Linked DNA regions of Homo sapiens: region 1 is linked to region 2. The links come from fine-mapping of genetic effects on gene expression. A gene starts in region 2. The other region holds a variant in brackets. All regions are shown on one strand. Distances are between the middles of the regions. Region 1 holds the start of APC2 (APC regulator of Wnt signaling pathway 2). Region 2 holds the start of REEP6 (receptor accessory protein 6).

What was found. PIP is the estimated chance that this variant, and not a neighbour inherited with it, causes the effect. A credible set is the group of variants that fine-mapping cannot tell apart.
Region 1: its variant is the best candidate, but not a certain one, in a credible set for the expression of REEP6 in cerebral cortex (GTEx, PIP 0.55).

Annotation. Positions count from the first base shown.
Region 1 is chr19:1,441,894-1,452,716 of GRCh38, forward strand. It overlaps APC2 (APC regulator of Wnt signaling pathway 2), which reads left to right and starts at 8,228. Exons shown (of 15, transcript NM_005883.3): 1 at 8,228-8,445. RefSeq lists silencers at 3,338-3,727, 3,778-3,877, 4,338-4,387, 5,037-5,331, 8,075-8,274 and enhancers at 10,117-10,750, 10,751-10,823. The variant GAA/G (reference allele first, on the strand shown) is at 7,332.
Region 2 is chr19:1,484,555-1,496,175 of GRCh38, forward strand. REEP6 (receptor accessory protein 6) reads left to right here and starts at 6,627. Exons shown (of 5, transcript NM_138393.4): 1 at 6,627-6,830; 2 at 10,740-10,833; 3 at 10,915-11,053. The coding sequence starts at 6,716. It overlaps PCSK4 (proprotein convertase subtilisin/kexin type 4), which reads right to left and starts at 5,796. Exons shown (of 15, transcript NM_017573.5): 1 at 5,604-5,796; 2 at 5,239-5,343; 3 at 3,634-3,726; 4 at 3,410-3,538; 5 at 3,231-3,307; 6 at 3,049-3,137; 7 at 2,587-2,759; 8 at 2,299-2,511. The coding sequence starts at 5,792. RefSeq lists silencers at 5,536-5,965, 6,186-6,725, 6,756-6,875.

The sequences.
Region 1 (10,823 bases), 43 kb before region 2:
GGAAATCGCACTCTAGCCCGGGCAACAAGAGCTAGACTCTGCCTCAAAAAAAAAAAAAAAAAAAAACCATGATTTGCTCGTGTTCTTACCTCTCGATTTGGAATTAAGTTACATTACAGAGAAAGTGTGGGTCCGTGTTTTTCTCTCTGTTTGGGAAAAGGTGGGTTGGACAGAGGAAGGATGGCCCAGGGTTATAAGCTTGGCTCCAGTACAGCCGGGAGACCCCCAGGCAGCATGAGTCGGTGGGACTGGACCTGCCTGGCTGGTGTCCAGAGGGGCCCGTAGCCAGTGGGACGGTGCTGCACGTGGTCGTGCCTCAAGCCCTCCACTGCACCGGGCGCCCTGGCCAACCCTGCCAGGAAGTAAGGAGACCGGGGAGGCCACTGAGGGCCTGGACCTGGCTGGGTAGTCAGAAGTGGGGGCAAGTCTTGGCTGGCAGCCCCTGAGATGTGTAGAATGTTTGAAAATTCGCCTGTGGGTTGACCTGAACCCACCGGGCTTGAAACCAACGGTCCAAAGTTTGGAGTGTGGTCTTAAGGAAGGAGACCACTACTACTCCTGCTGCCTTCCTCCCACCACCTTGCCTAGTTCACAAGACAGGAGGAGAGAAAATGCAAAAAGTTGGAAAAAAAATGCAAAAGTAAGATAAACAGACAACCTTGGCACCACCACCCGGCCCTAGGAGTTAAAAAAAAAGTAATAATAACATCAACCACTGACCTAAACTACTTGTGTTATCTGTAAATTCCAGACACTACGAAAAAGCATTGTAAAACTTTCTGTTGTGTTAGCTGATGCATGCAGCCCCCACTCACGTTTTCCACACTTGCTTGATGTATCACGACCCTTTCACGTGGACCCCTTAAAGTTGTAAGCCTTTAAAAAGGCCAAGAATCTCTTTTTCGGGGAGCTTAAGACGCGAGTCTGCTGATGCTGCCGGCCGAATAAAAACCTCTTCTTTAATCCAGTGTCAGGAGTTTTGTCTGTGGCTCATCCTGCTACAGTCTGGCTGCTAGGTGGCCGCCGGAGGTCTCTGGGCAGCACTGGCCAGGTTCACTTCAGCGTGAACAGCAGAAGCTTGTACGGGACCCAGCTTCGAAGGCCCACCCCAGGTCCAGCTCAAGGAGAGGGAGGGAAGGCATGTGTAGGCAGGGTTCATTGTAGTCTCGGTTGTCAGCATTCAGAATTCTTTTTATTTTTTGAGACAGAGTCTCGCTCTGTCGCCCAGGTTGGAGTTGAGTGGCACGATCTCGGCTCACTGCAGCCTCCACCTCCCAGGTTAAAGCAATTCTCCTGCCTCAGCCTCCCGAGTAGCTGGGATTACAGAAGCACGCCACCACGCCTGGTTAATTTTTGTATTTTTAGTCGAGACAGGATTTCACCATGTTGGCCAGGCTGGTCTCCAATTCCCAACCTCAGGTGATCCGCCTTCCTCGGCCTCTGAAAGTGCTGTGCTCCAGCCTGGGCGACGGAGACTCCGCCTCAAAAAAAAAAAAAAAAAAAAAAGAAATTGCTGAGGTGTTAGGTGCTTTTCGCCTCAGATAAGCAAAGTGGGAAATTAGTGGATGTCCCACTGAAACAGCTTTATCTGCAACATGGTTTTCAACCCTGAGCCTTAGAAATCAAAAGTGCCGGAAACCATGGTGCACACTTGAAGTCTTTACCGAGGCCCCGTCTAAAAAAAACAAATGGAGCCGGGCGCGGTGGCTCACGCCTGTAATCCCAGCACTTTGGGAGGCCGAGGCGGGCGGATCACGAGGCCAGGAGATCAAGACCATCCTGGCTAACATGGTGAAACCCCATCTCTACTAAAAACACACACAAAAAATCAGCTGGGCGTGGTGGCGGGCGCCTGTAGTCCCAGCTACTGGAGAGGCTGAGGCGGGAGAATGGCGTGAACCCGGGAGGCGGAGCTTGCAGTGAGCCGAGATCGCGCCACTGCACTCCAGCCTGGGGGACAGAGCGAGACTCCGTCTCAAAAAAAGAAAAAAATAAATAAATGGAAATGACAGAGCTTTTGAGCTACCAGGTCTATCTGCAGAGCAAATGACACAGAGATGTGTGGGGCCGCGCCCATCATGAGGCAGCTAGCTGGGAACAAGCCCCAGGGGGCCCTCCCTGAGGAAAGCATAATAGGAATGGGTGCTGGGCCTCACTTCGCTTTTGCAGAGCTTTACTGGCACCCAGCTGTGCCCATTCATACCTGTATTACTTCTGCCAGGCAGACGCTGAAAATTTACTGTCTGGACCTTTACGGGAAGTTTCCTGTCCATAAAAGCCCTCCCTGCACACGCCCCTGCTGGCTAGCACGTGGCTGCTAATGGGTACTTCCCTTGGTTTTCTGCAGTTGGAATCCAGCATGTGTGATCAGGGAAAATATGTATTAGTATTTAAAGCAAAAAGATACCCCCAGTTCAGAGAGACACATGTCTTGGTGGCCAGGTGGTGCCCTAGGTCCACAAGAATTTGGGGGGTGTCCAGGAGGTGGGGTGGGAGCCTCTAACTAGCACTAGGGTGCCACTGTCGAGGGCCACTCCCAACTCAAGGCCCAGGCTCTGTCTTTAGGCCTCTCTGGCCATATCCGCACTTCTTTTTTTTTTTTTTTTTTTTTTTTCTGAGACGGAGTCTAGCTCTGCCGCCCAGGCTGGAGTGCACTGGCAGAATCTCAGCTCATTGCAACCTCCGCCTCCTGGGTTCAAGCGATTCTGCTCAGCCTCCCGACTAGCTGAGACTACAGGCATGCGCCAAGACGCCGGTTAATTTTTTGTATTTTTAGTATAGACGGGGTTTTGCCATGTTGGCCAGGCTGGTCTCGAACTCCTGACCTCAAGTGATCCACCCGCTTCGGCCTCCCAAAATGCTGGGATTACAGGCGGGAGCCACCGTGCCCGGCCCCACGCTTCTGTTTCTACCCTCTGGTCCCACACCCCGCTCCAGAATCTGCATGGACTCTCCCAGACCTGCCCGGCCCCATCTGTGCCGTCTCAGACAGACAGCTCCGTCCTCATCAGGTTCAGGTCTGGCCCCGGCGCTTGCGGGTCAGCTGCCTTCAGGCCCTGTCCTGGTTCCCGGCGCTTCTCACATCCCCGCGGCCTCCCCCCTGGACGGCAGTTTACACTGAACTCGGCGCCCTCCCCTGACTTCTGAAGGAGGAGTCCTGGGTGGCCCCGAAGCCTCCCCGGCAGCCGCACGGCTCCGTCCCCGCTCCAGGGTTCAGCTGAGGCACCTGCTGGAGGCGGCCTGTCCCCGCCGCCCTGCTAAAGCGGCGCCCCTTTCTCCGGCCGCTCGTTCTTTGGTTTCCAGGGACTTTGCACAATTCATAACACCCCTCTTAGCCCCCATCCTGCCCGGGCCGCATCTTCCGCCCGATCATCCGGCCCTCGACCCGCGCAGCCGCCTCCGCCCTCCTCTCCCGGCACCGCCCACGGCCTGTTCTCCCCGCAGCCGCCAGCGGGCGCCCGCGAGCCTGGAGCCGGGCGCGGCCCTGCTCTGTCCACAGCCCGCGGTGGCTCCCACCTCCCGCTGGGCCTGCGCGACCTGCCCCCCGGGGCCTCCCAGCCCTCACTGCCCTCGCGGGCTGCACTCTCCCCCAACACTCCCCAGGGCTGTTCGGCCTCCCCAGCAGCTCCCCATGCCCTGCCCGCCGCGCTGGCGTCTCTCCCAGCCCGCTGCAGTCCCCTCGTTCACGTCAGCTTCCCAAGGGCCTGGATTTTGTTTTGTTCAGTGCAGGGGGACCCAGCACACAGTAGGTGCTTTATAAATGCTTGTTGCATGAATGTCCGCGTTCGGTGTCGCCCCCTTACGGCGGCCCCCCGCGCGCCCAGCTCGGCGCCCAGCAAGCCTTGTGCGCGCAGGTGATGTTTGCTGAATGACTAATGAACCTCAGCGCGCCAAGCCGGGCTGATTCGGGGGTGGTTCCGAGCTTCCGCAGGGTGACCGTCCGCGGGCAGCGGACCACAGCCGCATGGCGACGCCGCCTCTGGCCCCCCGCGACCCCCATTCCCCGTGGGACCTCTCGTGCCCCCACCCCCACCCGGCCTCCTCCCCGCCGCCTCGGGCCCCCCCAGCCTCCTCCGCATTCGAACTCCCCAGCGTGGTCGGACCCGGACCCTGGCGCCGCTCGGCCCACGCGAGTCCCCTCCCCTCTCTCCCATCCTTGGATCTCCCACCGCCCCTCCGCAGCCTCGGTCCCGCGAGACTCCCCAGCCCCCGCGAGCACCCCCAGACCCCACGGTACGCCCTCGCCCCTTTCGGGAGGAGCCCCGCCCCGGGCCCGCGGACTGACCCCTCCCGCCCCTCTCCGCGCAGGCGCAGGGCGGCCCCGTTCGCGTCCCGCACCCCCACCCTGGCCGCCGAGGGGCGGGGCGCGGCGGGTCCGGGGCGGCCGCGGCTCCATGGGGCTCCTGGGGCTCCTGAGCCTGCTGCACTCGGCCTTCTTCGGGGACCAGGTAGGGCGCGTGGGTCGAGCCGTTGGGGAGGGCTCCGGGCCGCGCAGGAACGGGGCGGGGTCCACACCGCGGGAACAGCGGGCGCGGCGGCGGGGGGCGCATGGGGCGAGCGCGCGGAGGCTGCAGAGTCGGGGGTCTAGTGCCGTCGCCGTAGAGACCGTTGCCGGGAAACCGCCTCGGAAGGCTGGCGGGGATGGAAGCCCCTCTCGTGCGCCGCTGCGACCCCCAGCCCCGGGTCTGCGCAAGCGCAGGGCTCGCCCAGCCCAGCCCTCGGCCTCTGCAGGAGACCCTCGGACCCCTCCTCACTGCGCCGACGCGGAGGCTGCGCCAGCTGGGGCGGCGGGGGCGGCTGCGGGGGCATCCTGCGGAGGCTCGGCCCTGCGCAGGGTGGGGGCCTGGGCCACGCCCTGCGCTTCTTTGGGCCTCAGTTTCCCCTTCTGGGCGCGAGCGTATGGCCTGCTTTGACGTTCGCCGCCGCTGCTGTTCGTATCCGTCCGCTCCCGACCCCAGCGCTTCTCCAGCCTCCGGAATCGTCTGAATTTCGCGGCTGTGACATCCCTCATTGGAGGGGAAACTGAGGCTGGGGGGTGCAGCGGGGAGCCCAAGGTCACGCTTCGAGGCCGGAGCCTCGTTGCGGAGCTAAGGCGCCCGCAAGAGAACGCGGGGCGGGGGCCGGGGAGCTGTCCGCGGTGCTGACGGAGGCGCACGTCTGCCGACTCGCCGCCGGGGAAACTGAGGCCCATAGCGGCGGTCAGGCTTCAGGGCGCGGCCTGGACCGGCCTACCCCACCCTCCCCCACCTCCGGTGGCCTCCTCACCGGTCAGGGCTCTGCCCGGCCACCCAGCCGGCGGCGGGCCGTCTCTATCCTCCCGCGATGACCTGGTGCCTTCTCTGTCCCCACCCAGCTCCCGATGGGGGCCGCCCCTGTTTCTGCCTCTAGCCCCTGGCACAGAGGAGGCATCAAGGGGGCGGGGACAGCTCGAGGTCAGACTCAGAAGGCTCAAAGACACTCCAAGAGTGAGCCGTGTGCCAGGCTGCGGACTTGCGGGGAGGTGTCACAGGACAGGGGTGGGGGAGTGAGCATTTCATGGAACTTCCCCTTTAGCCCAGCAGCAGTAGGGGGCGTGGAGGACCCCAGGGAGGAGCCTAGGTCGGGGTCTTGGGCTAGGCCCTGCGTTCTGCAGTGGGAGAAGGGGGAGACCTCTCTCAGTCTCCTGAAGTCCTAGGGGGCTGTGGGGGGTTCTTGAGGCTCTGAAATGTCTGGTGATGTCTGAGTGTGGCTGTGGTTCAAGGATTTACAGGGTCGAGGATTTTAGTGTGTGGGGGGGGATTGTTCAGGGACATAATGTTTTGTAGATTTGGGGCCAAGGGCATCTTGTCTTGGGGTCTCAGCCCCCATGTACCCTCAGCCCTCCAGGCCCTGGCCACCCCCAGAGGGATAAGAAGGGAGGTTCAGTGTCACTCCGGAGGCCTGGCTGGCACAGGTGAACTCAGGCAACACGTTCCCTGGCCCAGGCCTCAGTTTCCCCATGTATACAAGGACAGGACTGACCTTGGATCCCCCAAACCCCTGCCTGATGGGGGCCTGGGGAGCTGAGACATCTGAAACTACACAGGGAGGTGGGACTTAGTTCCTCTTTGGGGGAGGCAGGGATCATCCAACCCACCCTTCAGTAAACAAGACTGGAAACCGAGGCCAGAGAGAGACATGCCCAGGGGGACACAGGGACAACAAGGCTGAGCTGAAGCCAGGGCCCTGGGCTCTGCATCCCCAACCCCATTTCAGCCTCGCCCAGCTCTGCCCCGGCTTGACCTGTCAAACCCCACCACGCGCCCTACCCCATGGCTCCACCAGACACCCCCTGTGTCCCAAGCATGCATTGATCTTCCCTCAGCCTGGAACGCCTCTCCTCCTGATCACTGCTGTTCACTTCTCAGGGCAGCCTTCCAGCCTCCAGAAAAAAATCCCCTTCGAGGCGGGCGGATCATGAGGTCAGGAGTTTGAGACCAGCCCGACCAACACGGTGAAACCCCCTCTCTATTAAAAATACAAAAATTAGCTGGCAAGGTGGTACATGCCTGTAATCCCAGTTACTGAGGAGTCTGAGGCAGGAGAATCACTTGAACCCAGGAGGCGGAGGTTGCGGTGAGCCGAGATGGCGCCACTGCACTGCAGCCTGGGGGACAGAGCAAGACCCCATCTAAAAAAAAAAAAAAAAAAAGGCCGGGCGTGGTGGTTCACGCCTGTAATCCCAGCACTTTGGGAGGCCGAGGCGGGTGGATCACGAGGTCAGGAGATCGAGACCATCCTGGCTAACGTGAAATCCCGTCTCTACTAAAAAATACAAAAAATTAGCCTGGGCGTGGTGGCGGGCGCCTGTAGTCCCAGCTACTCGGGAGGCTGAGGCAGGAGAATGGCGTGAACCTGGGAGGCGGAGCTTGCAGTGAGCCGAGAACGTGCCACTGCACTCCAGCCTGGGCTACAGAGCAAGACTCCGTCTCAAAAAAAAAAAAAAGAAAAAAAAGAAAAAGAAAAAAGAAAAGATCCCCTGTGTCTGCCCACTGCATTGCCTCCCCAGACCCAACCAGTGGGGACAGCTGCGTCCAGCTCTGGGGGCTCCCAGACAGCCAGGCCGAAGGGCTCTCAGCCCCTGGCAGTGCTGGCCCGGGACAAGGCCCTCGGGTCTTCAGCTCAAGGCCCAACAGGAAACAGCACGGGTCCTCCCTTGCCTTTGTCTACGGGGCCTTGAATACTCGGACCTTCCCACCCTCTCCTATCATTCCCTGCACCAGCCCTTGCAGAATCTTCCGCCTCCTCTCCATTTTACAGAGGAGGAAACCGAGGGTTGAGCGGCGAATGATTTGCCCTGCCTGCCCAGCACG[GAA/G]AAAAATCACTCTTCTGGCCCCAGTCGCCTCCCTTTCTGTGCTGTGAGTCTGTGTCCAGAGCAGGAAGGGCTGCTCCGAGCTGCAGGGACGGGCTCTGTGTGTTAAACCTTCAAATGGCTTCCAGGGACTCATGGAGCATCCAGGACACCTGGAGATGGCGACTCCTGGGACCCCTGGCCCTTCCCTCCTCTGGCCTTCGGTCCGTGAGGGTGAATTAAGTGTGCCACCCACCAGGGGCAGAGACACATGGAGACAGAGATTGAGAGACAGAGAACAGAGGGGGAGACAGAAAGAGAGAGGGACATGAAGAGCAACGGAGTTACAGGAGGATCTGACGCTCCGTTGGGGAGACAGGGAGAAATGTGGGGAGATGCAGCGTCCCAGGTGCTCCCCAGTGGCCCTGCCCCTCCTCCCCTCTCCCCTCCCCACCAGGCAGGACCCTCAGGGAGCTCCAGCCTGGACCCGAACCCTGTCCCACCCTGACGCACCTGCACCAGGCCAGGCTGGACCTGTGGGGTGGGTGCAGGCCTGGCCCCAGCCCGGCCACTGCCCTGGAAACCCCTCCCCCGCCAAGATGCTGATGTAACATCCAGGATTTGATGTTTTACTCTCCAATTCTGCAAATCCAGACGCAGGAGGTTTTAAGAGGCCGTTGCACCCTGCAATAAAGTGCGGGACACAGGAATCTTGGTCCTCGGGGCACCCCCTTCCCTCGGGGGGGTTTCGCCCCCCGCACTCACGGCCCCTGAGCCCGCGCGGAGGCCCGACGCCCCGCGGCCGACGCCGGTCCCCGCCCCGGGCCGCCATTGGCTGTTGCCATGGCACCAGCCCGTCTTCCCGCGCCCTCATTGGCTGTCTCACCCGCATCCCTCATCCCGCATCCTCCCCCGCTCGCGGTGGTCTCGCCCAGCGCTAGGAGCGGCAGCGCCGCCTGCCCAGGCCCGGACCGGGCTTTGTCCGCCCCGGAGCCCCTGCCCGCGCCGCGGAGACCCCGGAGCCCGCGCGCTCCGAGGCCACCCCGGGCCGGGATTTCCGGTGGGGCCCGCGGAGCCGCGCAGAGGGAGGAGGCCCCAGACCCAGGCGCCCCGCCAGCCCAGCTGCACGTAAGCGGGTGTGTGTCCTCGGGGAGGAGGGCAGGGGCGCGACCTCCGCCTCGCGTCGAGGTTTCCATCCCTGGCTCTCAGCATTGCCCGTCAGCACAGACTCTGGACCCTCCATTTCCCCAGAGTGGGAGCTGGAGGGGAAACTGAGTCCCGGTGAGCTGGGCGTCAGCGTTTCTGCAGCCGGTCCTGCGCACACACCCACTCACGGGCTTCACCATCCGGACCTCCCTGAGGTGATCGGAGGAAGGGATGGGCAGGCCAGTGGTGTGTCTTCGGGGGTGTTGCTGCACCTCTCTGGGTGTCAGTTTCCCTCTCTGGAAAGAGGGGGTTTGGATTAAAGGAAGGAGAAAGGCCCCTTTGGGCCTGGCTTCCCATACCTGTGCCTCCCTCCCCTGAAATGCAGCCCGCTCAATAAGACCAGCCCCCAGTCATGGTGCCTTCAGGGAGTGATCGCTCAGGAAGGCCCCCAGGAGGCTACACGATGCAACCTGGGGGTGAAAGTAGGCAGAAGAGCTTCGTGGAAGAAGCTGCACTGTGTGGGATGGCAGGACTTAGAAAAGGTGCTCTAGGCAGGGCAACTGCACGTGCAAAGGCCTGAGAGAAGAGAGCCTCCAGCCTCTAAGTGAGTCGCGGTGTACATGGAGGAGTCGGAGCGTATCCTGAGGGCACTGGGGAGCCATGGAAGGTGTTTGAGCATGGGAGAAATGGGATCTCACTTGTGACGTTTAAAGCTCCCTCTGGCTGTGCATGGGGGACTGTGGGAGGCCAGGAAGAGGCTGATCAGAATGTCCTCACAGAGGGGTGTCAGGAGCTGGGGGAGGCATGATCCCGCTGGGCAGAGCTTGGAGGGACTAGCTTAGTCTGATGAGGATGCAGAAATGACCACCGAATGTGGGGAGAGGGAAGGTGTCTGAGGCTTGGCTTCGGTCAGCTGAGAAGAACCACGTGGGGGAGGCCTGGGTTTGGGGAGCAGGAGGCAGACATGTGTTGCTTTGCACGTCATCTGGTCCTTCCACCTGGCTGGGCATGGGATGGTGACCTCAGCTGGAACATGGGGCTCGAGCCAGACCCCAGGGTCTCCCTGCGTGTAGCCCCCAACCCCAAGCCTGATCCCCACTGGAGACCTGAACAGCCTTGGACATCATCGGATCAGGGTGGGAGGTGCCAGCCTCTGCCACCTGACTTCCAGTCCCTGTGCCCCTCCCACCCTGCCCTTGGGCACTCCTGCCCTGCAGGTTCCTCAGAGGGGCAACCCAAAGCCAGAGAGGGGCGGGTCTTGTCGGGCCTCCAGCCTGGACTTCCCAGCCCCTCTGGGGCAGCATCTGGGTGCCAGACCTCGGTTCCTAGGGCCTCGTTTCTCCCTCTGGGAACAGCCAAATGGTGGTCCCTGAGACTCAGGACAGACCAAGAAGGAGCCGGATGACATGGCAAGCCACACACTGCGTCCCCTGAGCAGGACGGGACAGCCCGACTCCATCCTCCCACCTGCGACTGAGCCCCCACCCCTACTCCTGTCCCAGCCGTGCCCCTGGTGACATTTGGGTGGGAGGGGAGGGGATGAGGGGGCACCTGGGGGTCAGAGAACAAATGACGGGTGAATACATGTGTGTGGCCAGGTGGAGGAGGGAGGGGAGGAGCAGGTGGGCTGGACAGGGCCGGTGTGAGGAAGGGGCTCAGGCTGGCAGGGGGAGGTGGCAGAGGGATGGGCTGCCATTGGTGCGTCTGAGACAAAGGCGGAGGGAGGAGGCGAGCGCTGATGGGAAAGGAACAAAGAGGGAAGGGGGGCGTGAAGGGGGGCTCCGGCGGGAGGGCCGAGCCGAGGGAGGAGGCGCCGGCCAGCTGGACAGAGGGAGGAGGCCAGGCCAGAGCCAGAAGACGGCCAGAGGCACAAAGAAGCCAGCGCGCTGGCAGAGTCAAGGGATGGGGCAGGGGCTGCCGGGGCCAGCAGGGACCAGCTGAAGGCTGCGCAGGGGGTGCGGGCCACACAGGTAGCCACCCTGAGCTCAGCCACCGATGGAGGGTCGTGGGGCTGCTGCGGTGATGGCGGTGGGCTTGGGTCCATCTGTCCTGCCGTTTCTGCACAGCTTAGGTGTCACCCACTGGCCTTCGTGGTGTTTTCATTGTCCATCGGCAGGGACAGCTGGTGGTCTGTCCGCCCCGCGTGTCTGGCTGTCAGCCTCTGGGCAGGCTTGCTTTTATGGGGGAGGGTCCTGTCTGTCTGTCTGTCGCCCTCTCTGGCTGTGAGCCTGGGGGTGCTGGGCTGGCCAGTCGGCTTGCTGGGTTAGGCTGTCCCAGCTGTCTGTGTGTTTGTCCGGCTGTCAGGATGTGTCCTGGGGGCTGGGAAGGAGAGGCCGACCCATCGTCTGTCGGTCGACTGGTCAGTTGG
Region 2 (11,621 bases):
CACCTGTAATCCCAGCACTTTGGGAGGCCGAGGTGGGTGGATCACCGGAGGTCAGGAGTTCGAGACCAGCCTGGTCAACACCTTGTCTCTACTAAAAATACAAAAAAATTACCCGGGTATGGTGGCGGGGCACCTGTAATCCCAGCTACTTGGGAGGCTGAGGCAAGACAATCACTTGAACCTAGGAGGCAGAGGTTGCAGTGAGCCAAGATCACACCGTTGCACTCCAGCCTGGGCAACATGGCAAGACTCCATCTCAAAAAAATAAAAAAATAGTACCAAGAACTGAAGTCAAAAAGTACCAAGGACTGGCCACACAGTGGCTCACGCCTGTAGTCCCAACACTTTGGGAGGCTGAGGCGGGCAGATTGTTTGAGCTCAGGAGTTTGAGACCAGCTTGTGGCAACATGGTGAAACCCCGTCTCTACAGGAAAAATACAAGAATTAGCTGGGTGTGGTAGTGTGCACCTGTAATCCCAGCTACTCAGGAGGCTGAGGCAGGAGGATCGCTTGAGCCTGGGAGGTAGAGGTTGCAGTGAGCTAAGATTGCACCACTGCACTCCAACCTGGGTGACAGAGTGAGACTCTGTCTCAAAAAAATTTAAAAAAAAAGGTACCAAGGACTCCAAGGACTGAGTTCAAGAAGTAACAAGGACTATGCTCAAAAAGAACTAAGAGCCTGGCCAACATGGTGAAACCCCGTCTCTACTGAAAATACAAAAAAATTAGCCGGGCATGGTGGCGTGGCCTGCTATTCCCGGCACTTTGGGAGGCCGAGGCTGGTGGATCGCTTGACCTGAGGAGTTGGAGACCAGCCTGGCCAACATGGTGAAATGCCATCTCTACAAAATATACAAAAGAAATTAGCAGGACATGGTGGCATGCTTGTGGTCTCAGCTGCTCAAGAGGCTGAGGCACAAGAATCGCTTGAGCCCGGCAGGCGTAGGTTGCAGTGAGCTGAGATCATGCCACTTCACTCTGTTGCACCCAGCCTGGGTGACAGAGCGAGACTCCATCTCAAAAGAAAAAAGAAAGTGCTGGGCACTGTGGCTCACACCTGTAATCCCAGCACTTTGGGAGGCCGAGGTGGGCGGATCACGAGGTCAGGAGATCGAGATCATCCTGGCTAACATGGTGAAACCCTGTCTCTACTGAAAATACAAAAAATTAGCCGGGCATGGTGGCGGGCACCTGTAGTCCCAGCTACTCAGGAGGCTGAGGAAGGAGAATGGTGTGAACCCGGGAGGCGGAGCTTGCAGTGAGCTGAGATCGCGCCACTGCACTCCAGCCTGGACGACAGAGCCAGACTCCATCTTCAAAAACAAACAAATGAAAAGAAACCCTGGGCTGAAGTGATTCTCCCACTTTGGCCTCCCAAAGTGAGCTGTTGCGCCCGGCTGGATTTGTTTTTGTTTTGTTTTGTTTTGTTTTGTTTTGAGACAGGGTCTCGCTCTGTGGCCTAAACTGGAGTGCAGTGGTGCAATCTTGGCTCACTGCAACCTCCATCTCTGGGGTTCAAGCGATTCTCCTGCCTCAGCCTCCTGAGTAGCTGGGATTACAGGCGCCCGCCACCATGCCTGGCTAATTTTTTTTTGTATTTTTAGTAGAGATGGGGTTTTGCCATGTTGGCTAGGCTGGTCCTGAACTCTTGACCTCAGGTGATCCACCCACCTTGGTCTCCCAAAGTGCTGGGATTACAGGCGCGAGCCACTGTGCTTGGCCTGGATTTGGGTTATTGATTGATTGATTGATTGATTTTTGAGACGGAGTCTCACTCTGTCGCCCAGGCTGGAGTGCAGTGGCCCGATCTCGGCTCACTGCAAACCCTGCCTCCCGGGTTCATGCCATTCTCCTGCCTCAGCCTCCCGAGTAGCTGGGACTACAGGCGCCCACCACCACGCCCGGCTAATTTTTTGTATTTTTAGTAGAGACGGGGTTTCACTCTGTTAGCCAGGATGGTCTCGATCTCCCGACCTCGTGATCCACCCGCCTCGGCCTCCCAAAGTGCTGGGATTACAGGCGTCAGCCACCGTGCCTGGCCTTTTTTTTTTGTAGTTTTAGTAGAGACAGGGTTTCACCATGTTAGCCAGGATGGTCTTGATCTCCTGACCTTGTGATCTGCCTGCCTTAGCCTCCCAAAGTGCTGGGATTACAGGTGTGAGCCACCGTGCTCGGCCTGGATTTGCATTTTCAAAGCAGCTTTGGGAGGGTGCTAAGTCACAGTGGTGGGGACAGGAGGAGGCCAGGCTGGGATGGCAGGGCCTGGGGAGGGGACCCTGTTGGGGCGGCTGCACTCACGATCTGGGGGTCGGTGGCCACGCCGCTGCTGTAGGTGGTGGTGAGGGTGGAGGCGCAGGCTTCGCTGTACCAGGGCACGCGGCCCTGCTGGGTGGTGCTGCCCACGGAAAGCGTGTGGATGCTGTTGGTGTAGCCGTCGCAGTTGCAGTTGTCGTAGTGCAGGCCGCCGTTGCCCGAGGCCCAGATGAAGAGCGTGCCCAGCCCGCCGCGGCCCTGGGAAACCAGGAGGGGCGGGGAGGGGGCGTCGGCCTGGCCTGCCACCCCTGCCCTCCTCGGGCTGCCACTCACCTTGGTCACACCACGCCGGAAGGCCTCGCGGGTGAGGATGCCGGGGCCGTCCACCGTGCGGCCGTCGTCCTCGGGACCCCAGCTGGCGCTGTAAATGTGGATGTGCTGCGGCTGCAGGCTCAGCGACTGGGCCTCGATGACATCGGTGATGGTACCGTCCAGCATCCGTACGCCTGCAGAGCCAGGGCGGGAGGGCCGCTGCCACCGGCCCTGCCCTTCCCCACACCCCAGCCCGCCCCGCGCCACTCCACACCACTCCCCAGCCCTACCTGGGCCCTCTCTCTGCTCCCTGGAGTGGGACCATTCGTATTGGCTCAGCACCCCCCAAGCCCTGGAGTCTGGGGCCCTAGCACCACCCAGCAGTGAGAGGGTGGGCTCCCGAGTCCTTGGGCCCAGCTCCCCGCCAGAGTCACCCCCTTCCCTCTCTGTCCCGGAATGGTGCCGCTGGGGGACCCCGGGTACCTCCGATTCGGGCGTTGAAAGCGACCCCCACACCACAGAAGCCATTGTTGGCCATCGCGGCCACCTCCCCAGCACAGCGGGTCCCGTGCCTGGTGCCAGGGCCAAGAGGGGCTCCTGTCACGGCCTCCATCCCCCTGCCGGGTACTGGGGCTTCCCCCGTGTGCTGTGGGAGCCCTGCTCACCGGTTCTCTTTGCTGGGGGTGTAGCGGGGCTGGGGGTCCGGGTCGTAGTCATTGAAGTCATAGCTGGCCAGGGGGTCCTGGGGGCAGGTGGGGATATGAGGGGGCCGGGAGGCGTCCCTAGGGTGGTGCCAGCCTCGGCACCTGGGGCAGCCCTCGCCCACAGCCACCCGCGGTCTCACGTAGTTGGCCCAGAGGTCCGGGTGGTCCTTCTCGATGCCATCGTCCAGCACAGAGACCACGATGCCCTGGCCTGACAGCCCCTGACTCCAGGCCTGCAGGATGCTCAGGTCTGGTTGGGCCTCGCTGTTCTGCAGGGGGAGGCGGGGTTGTGACCCTGTGAGGGCCTGGAGTTGAGGGCGCCAGCGGCCCCGTCCCCGTCTACCCACCCTGGCTGCCTGCTCACCATGTACCACTGCTTGGAGAACCAGGGGTCCGTGGGCACCACGACAGAGCGTTTCACCCGCCGCTGCAGCGTCTGCTGCTGGAACCACTGCACCTGCAGAGCAGAGGGTGCATCAGGCCTGTCCCCTGCTCGCCCCTGGGGCCCCTCGTGGTTCAGGGAGTGAGGCAGCCCCGTGCCCTGGGACCCTGTGTTTGTGGGGGTTGCTCTCCAGGGTCCCCATGTGCCTGGGGCTCTGTCTGCAGTCGGAAGGGGTCGAGGCTTTTGGACCACCTGTCCTTGGGCCCACAGACGCGTCGTTGCTGCCGCGGGTGACTGCAGGTCCCCGGGTCCCCACCCCACTCTCTCCCCCATCCCTGTTCTAGATCCTTCTATCTCTCTCCTGCATCACTTCCTTATTTTTTTTCTTTTTTTGAGACAGAGTCTTGTTCTGTCGCCCAGGCTGGGGTGCAGTGGCGCAATCTTGGCTCACTGCAACCTCTGCCTCCTGGGTTCAAGCGATTCTCCTACCTCAGCCTCCCAAGTAGCTGGGACTACAGGCGCACACCACCATGCCCGGCTAATTTTTGTACATTTAGTAGAGATGGGGTTTCGCCATGTTGATCAGGCTGGTCTCGAACTCCTGAGCTTAAGTGATCTGCCTGCCTTGGCCTCCCGAAGTGCCGGGATTACAGGCATGAACCACCACGCCAGGCCTGGCTTCTCTCTTGCAAACCACATCAGGAACTGGCCACTGCTCTCCCTCCCGGTGCTGTAAGCAGGCAGCTGTCCAGTCCTGTTCAAGGCACTTCCTGGCCTCCGAGGGCTTCCCAGGCTCCATCCCAACCCCTCAGCTTGACATCCCAGGCATTTTCTAGACAGGGCCCAGCCCGATGGGACCCAGGCCCCTTTCTGAGCGCCTGGACACTGCGTCCTGAGGGCCACTGGGTGACTGTAAGCCTCCTACTTTTTTTTTTTTTTTTTTTGAGACGGAGTCTCGCTCTGTCGCCCAGGCTGGAGTGCAATGGCGCGATCTCGGCTCACTGCAAGCTCCGCCTCCCGGGTTCACACCATTCTCCTGCCTAAGCCTCCTGAATAGCTGGGACTACAGGCGCCTGCCACCATGCCCGGCTAATTTTTTTGTATTTTCAGTAGAGACAGGGTTTCACCGTGTTCGCTAGGATCTCGTCTCGATTTCCTGACCTTGTGATCCGACCGCCTCCGCCTCCCAAAGTGCTGGGATTACAGGCGTGAGCCACCGCGCCGGGCCAAGCCTCCTACTCTTTGGAACCCATTACGGTGTCGTAAAATCCCCTTCCCTCCATCCCATGACCTAGACGGTGGGGAAGTCACGCCGTCTGTCCCTCCTTACCAGAGCCCCTGGGGCCCAGAGGAGGGAGGGGGAGGACAAGAGGTGCCCACTGTGTACCAGGCCCTGGCAGGCGCCATGATTTCCGTATCTGGGTCTTCCTGCCTCCTCTTGCTGTATAGACTTGGGGCCCGGGCGGGTCTGAGCCACAGAAAGCACACAGCTGTTCATAACAACCACGAGAACCACAGAAGATGGCTGGTGGCCCCAGGAGGCAGCTGAGACCCCGGGCAGGGGGTTGGCCTCCAGGCCAGGCTCACCTTGGGGTTTTTCTTCAGGTGCAGGCGGTGGCCCCAGTGCGGGGTCAGGGACTGCTGGACCACGCCCCGGTGCCGCAGGTGAAAGTACTGCCCGTCAGGGAAGATCTGGGGATGTGGGGAAGCGGCCGCACCGATGGGACCCGGCTCCCCTGCTGAAGCCCCCGAGGGCCGGTAACAGCCCCCTTCTTTGTCCTTCCCCAGCAGGTGCTCTCTGGGAGTCCCAGAAGCTGAGCTTGGCTGAGGCAGGGGTGGGCTGGGACTCTTGATATTTAGAAGACCTTGTGGGCTCCCTCCCCCTTGTCGGGGTCTAGGGTTGTTCAGTCCCCTCCAAGCCCCCACTTCCCGTCTATCCCGGTCCCACCCACCGGCCCCAGGTTGACGAAGCCGAATTTGCGTGCCAGGCGCTCGACCTCCCGGTTACCCTGGGACACCTGGACGGCCCAGCTGCTGACATAGATGGGGGCTCGGACCGGGGCCCACCCCACAGCCCGGGGGCGGACAAGGGCCAGGGCCAAGACCAGGCGCAGCCACAGCGCAATCGGGGCGGGCCGCATGGAGGCGGGGCGGGAGCGGGGCCTGCGCAAATCCCCTCCCTCCCGCCAAACCGCCGAGTGGGCCCAGGCGTCCGACCCGCCCCCGGCGCCATAGCAACGCAGAAGGCTTCGACTCCCAGGGGGCCTTGCGGCTACTCAGCCAGGAGGGGCGCGAAGATCTAACAGAAGCGGGAGAGGGACGCACGCCTGCCCGTCTTCCGCAGACCCACACCCTCGGGAGCCTCAGTTTTCCCATTTGTACAACGACAAGACTAACCCAGAGAAGCGGGTTCACTGTTGCGATAACGCGTCCTACCCTTTGTTTGACCTCTCCCACTTTCCAACACACCCCTCCTTCGAGAATCAGCCCGGCCTCCTGTCCGGCCTAATCAGAATCATTCTTTTGCGTAATCCCGCCTCCTCCGATAAGCCTCGCCCCGTTCCCGCCCCTACCATTCCGCCCTGCCTCCTTTGTGATCAGCCCCGCCCTCCACTGGTCTCGCCAATGAATCGCGTCCCGTTTCTCCAATCGGCTCGGATGTTTCTTTAGCCCCTCCCCCCGGTTCCGCCCCCCCACGCCTCTCCTCGCCCTGGCTCCACCCTTCAGCCAATAATCCCATCCTCTGACACCGCCCTTCCAATCAGCTACGTCTCGCTCCGGCCCGGCCAATCGGTGCCCTGGGCCGCCGCGCCCCGCCCTCTCCCGGCGGGGTCTGGGCAGCGGCGGCCGTGGCGGAGGGCTATGCGGCGGGGGAGACGGGGCAGGCCCCTCCTCCTTTGTCCGCCCTGCCCTCCCATTGGTCCTAGCGGGGGGCCGGGGGCGGACACCGGCGCGGGGCCGGAGCATCGCGGCTCAGGCTGCGGGAAAGCGGTGCGCGTGCAGCGGGGTGGGTGCCCTGGTCCGCGGGCGAGCTCGAGCAGCCAACCCCGGGCGCGTCGGGGCCATGGACGGCCTGAGGCAGCGCGTGGAGCACTTCCTGGAGCAAAGGAACCTGGTCACCGAAGTGCTGGGGGCGCTGGAGGCCAAGACCGGGGTGGAGAAGCGGTATCTGGCTGCAGGTGAGCCGTCGGCGCTAGCCCGTTTCGCCGACGGGCACACCGAGGCCATGGGCCTGGGGGTCGCAGACCGGACTCCTTCCCCGGCTACGGGGTCCGGTCCGGCCGGTGGAGCGCGCGAGGTGACTGGGACCTCGAGGTCCGCCCGCAGCCCTTCCCTTGCCCGCGCCCTGCGACCCTGCTCCCGGGCCACCCCTCTCTAGCTTCCGCCCCTGGCCGCCCCCCGACGCCTCCTTCCGGGCGCTGGGTGCCTGCCATGCCGAAGTCCGGTTCTTCCAGTTGCCCAGTGGCCCCAGAGGGGTCGGGATGCCAGTGTCCTGCGCGTTTCGCCGTCCCCCTTCCCCCGTGGACCCCGGCCTGGCTGCAACAGTAGAGATCTTCCCGTTTTTCTGAGGGGAGGCTCCTGGCGGGAAGGGGAACGGACCGTCCTGGGGGCCTGCCCAGGACCCTTCTCCTTTCCTCCTCCTCTCCTGCCCTAGCTCACCTTCCCCCAGCTCAATGGCTTAGTGCCACCGAGCGTAAATGTTTGTTAAGACGGAGTTGGGTTGTCTGACGGCTGTGATGTGGGGAGGCTGGACTGGGGCCCACAGAGCCGGAGATCCAGGCACCCCGATTGTGACTCCATTACAGTTCTTCCGTGACTTTCACCCTTGGTGACGCTGCGCGCCCCTTCCCCTTTCCAAATCTCTAGCAAGAGCATGTAGTAAACGCTCCTTAAATGCCTCCCTCCCCACCTTTAAAACTTTTTTTTGAGACCGAGTCTTGCTCTGCTGCCCAGGCTGGAGTGCAGTGGTGTGATCTTGGCTCACTGCAACCTCCACCTCCTGGGTTCAAGCGATTCTCCTGCCTCAGTCTACCAAGTAGCTGGGATTACAGGTACCCACCACCATGCCCGGCTAACTTTTGTATTTTTAGCCGTTCAACATGGTGAAACGGGGTTTCACCATGTTGGCCAGGCTGGTCTTGAACTCCTGGCCTCAGGTGATCTGCCCACCTCGGCCTCCCAAACTGCTGGGATTACAGGCATGAGCCACCTTGCCTGGCCTAAAACTTTTTAAAATTAACTTTTTTAAGAGACAGGGTCTCACTATGTTACCCAGACTAGTCTTAAACTTCTGGGCTCAAGCGATCCTCCTGCCTCAGCCTCCCAAAGCTCTGGGATTACAGGTGGAAGCCACTGCACCCAGCCTTTCTTCCGTTTGTGTGGTGCTCCCAGCCCCACTGGCTCTGCCTTCTCTTCCAGGAAGCTCCGCAGAATGACTCACAAGGACTTGCTCTGGGCCTGGGGTATTCTGGGTAGAGGACAGTGCCACTTTTTTGAGCACCTTCTGCAGGTGGATCCCAGGAGTCCAGTTCCCCCCCAATTTTCCCACCATCTGGGGGTTCCCATGCCAGGCAGCGCCAGAACAGTCTGAAGTCTGTGCCCACACCCTGGAGGTCCCCAGGTGCCTGGTCCCATGTGCAGCGCAGCAGGTGGCATGGGCATGGCCCGGCTGTGCCTGCCCCCGGGAGCAGGTCCCTGACCTCTGCCCTCCCTTTCCACATCCCTGGGGCTAGTGGGCAGGAATTTAGGTCGTAGAGCGCCCAGGAGGCAGGCAGCAGGGAGGGGCTGCCTGGGGCACCGTGTCACCAGAGACGAAACTGAGGCACAGGGAGGCAGGGGCTGCCTCTGTGCCTGTTCTGTCTGAAGCATACAGTCCTCCACCCTGCCCACCCCCAGTCCCATCTGCTGCTAATCTTGGGGGCTGGGCCTCCCTCCACAGTTCTGATGTCCAAGGTCATCCTCCCGTCGCTGAAGCTGCAGGAAAAGGGATTTAGGGGAGGGACGCCCTGGGAGAGTCATTCCTCCCCACGAGCCAGGCCCGGGGAGAGATGGCAGTCCCTCATCCCCATCTCCCACCTCCTTTAAATTGACAAATCCCACACCCCTGGGTAACATACGAAGAAACTCAGAGGGGACAGTGACTGGGAGGCCACTCCTGGGACCAGCTGGGGGACTCCTCCTACCCCTGACCTTGGGTGCTTTTGGATAAAGACTAAAGCAGGTGGGAGGGGCTGGGGGGACTTGGGCCTCTGCCCTTTGGTCCAGAAGTGGCCTCTATCTCACTCTGCAGATAGCAGCCCCAGGGGAGGAGGAAGAAGGCTGTCCAAGCTCTCTGGAGCACATAGGTTCCCTGTGTGACCTTGGGCAACACCCACCCACCCCCAGTTTTGGCTGTTGAATAATTCAGGAAAAGCACAAAACCTGGCACACAATAGGCGCTTAATAAATGCAGCTGTCGTAGTCATTCTTTTCAGAGCCAGGTTCAGGATTGGGGCTGAGCTGGACACACACACACACACACACACACGTTTTTCTCTGAACACCCTCCTTGCTGGGACTGTGTTATAGTTGCCTGAAGGCACTTAATAAATGTGCAGAAAGGCTGATGGCGGTGGCTCACGCCTGTAATCCCAGCAGTTTGGGAGGCCAAGGCGGGCGGATCACCTGAGGTCAGGAGTTTGAGACCAGCCTGGCCAACATGGTGAAACCCCGTCTCTACTAAAAATACAAAAATCAGCTGGGCATGGTGGTACGCTCAGCTACTCAGGAGGTTGAGGCAGGAGAATCACTTGAGCCTGGGAGGCGAGCTTGTAGTGACCTGAGATTGCGCCACTGCACTCCAGCCTGGGTGACAGAGCAAGACTCCATCTCGAAAATAAATAGAAATAAACGTGCAGAAAGGCGTTCTCTCTGTTAACTTGTAACCATAGGAGGCAGGGGCCATTACTACTCCCACTTACCAAGGGGGAAACTGAGGCTCCATGCAGCCACAGCCTCACTCAGTGCCGGCTGGTGAGTGCACACCCGACCAAAGGGCTCTCCTCCACCCAGGGGATCGAGATGCTGGGGTTTGCTGCCTCCAAGACAGGAGGTTCTCAAAGGGGGTAGCCCTGCCCCCCACCCCGCCCCAGGGGACACTGGGTGATGTCTGGAGATACCTGTAGTCGTCATGACTTGGGGGCTGATGGCATGGAGTGGGCAGAGGCCAGGGACACTGCTCAGCACCCTGCAGTGTCCAGGACAGCCACTTCCCCCTCTCCACCGAAAACAACCAAGAATGACCCGGCCCTGAACATCAGCAGTGCCAAGGCAGAGAAACCCTGCGCTAAGATAACAGATGAAACAGTTGCCTTTCTCAGCTCTAGAATCAAGTCTTCATGACAGCCTGGCCTCCCTTGCAGGTTTCTGCCATCCCTTATATTGAAACACTGGCCTGTTTTCCCAGTGCCTCCCAAAGGGCCTGGAATGAGATGGCTATCGTTGCAGATTACACTTTTTTTTTTTTGAGACGGAGCCTCACCCAGGCTGGAGTGCAACGGCGCGATCTTGGCTCACTGCAAGCTCCGCCTCCTGGGTTTACGCCATTCTCCTGCCTCAGCCTCCCCAGCAGCTGGGACTACAGGCACACACCGCCATGCCTGGCTAATCTTTTGTATTTTTAGTAGAGATGGGGTTTCACCGTGTTAGCCAGGATGGTCTCCATCTCCTGACCTCGTGATCCACCTGCCTCGGCCTCCCAAAGTGCTGGGGTTACAGGTGTGAGCCACCGCGCCCGGCTGCAAACACTTCACTGGGCAGCTATTCCGCACCCACCCCCACTGCCCAGCGTCGAGCTCCTGCCTGCCCTTGGGGAGCTCTCAACCCCGGTGGGGGACATGGACACGTTGACCAGTTACAGGCACAAGGCTCAGGGCCTAGAGGCACGATGGGGGATGTACAGGCACATCAGGGGCAGTGGACATATCCTGGAGGCGGCTCCTGGGAGGAGGTGACGGTTGCAGTCTTCGTCGACTGAAAGGCGGCCTGGGTACCGTCGTGGGGGCTCAGCGGGTCCCCAGCCCTGGCACACCACCGCCTCTCTCCGGCAGGAGCCGTCACTCTGCTAAGCCTGTATCTGCTGTTCGGCTACGGAGCGTCTCTGCTGTGCAATCTCATCGGATTTGTGTACCCCGCATATGCCTCGTGAGTGCACGGCTGGCTGCCCACGCGGGGGGTTCTGGGGGCTCCCTGGCAGCCCCTGACCCTGCTGCACCCTCCCTGCAGAATCAAAGCTATCGAGAGCCCAAGCAAGGACGACGACACTGTGTGGCTCACCTACTGGGTGGTGTACGCCCTGTTTGGGCTGGCCGAGTTCTTCAGCGATCTACTCCTGTCCTGGTTCCCTTTCTACTACGTGGGCAAGGTGGGCCCTGCCAGGGCGGGCACAGCCGTGGAGCGCATGGGGCTTGGGGATTCCTGGGAGGCGCTGGGGCCAGAAAGTCCGGAGGATACCAGGAGATGGGGGATGTGAGGGGAAGACTCAGTCCCTTCCCTGGGGAAACGAGCCCTGTCCGGGGGCTGATGGTGGAGGGCCCACCCTGAAGGGTGTCTGATGGTGGAGACCCAAGCCTGCTCCAATAGGATGTCCGATGGTGGAGGGCTCACCCTACAGGATGTCTGATGGTGGAGGGCCCACCCTGAAGGGTGTCTGATGGTGGAGACCCAAGCCTGCTCAAATAGGATGTCTGATGGTGGAGGGCTCACTTAAAGGGTGTCTGATGGTGGAGACCCAGGCTTATTCCAATAATATGTCTGATGGCACAGGGCCCACCCCTAAAGTGTGTCTGACGGTGGAGACCCAGGCCTGTCCCAGTAGGACGTCTGATGGTGGAGGGCTCACTCTAGAGGGTATCTGATGGCGAAAACCCAGGCCCATCCCAATAGGACGTCTGATGGTGGCGGGCCCACCCTAAAGGGTGTCTGATGGTGGA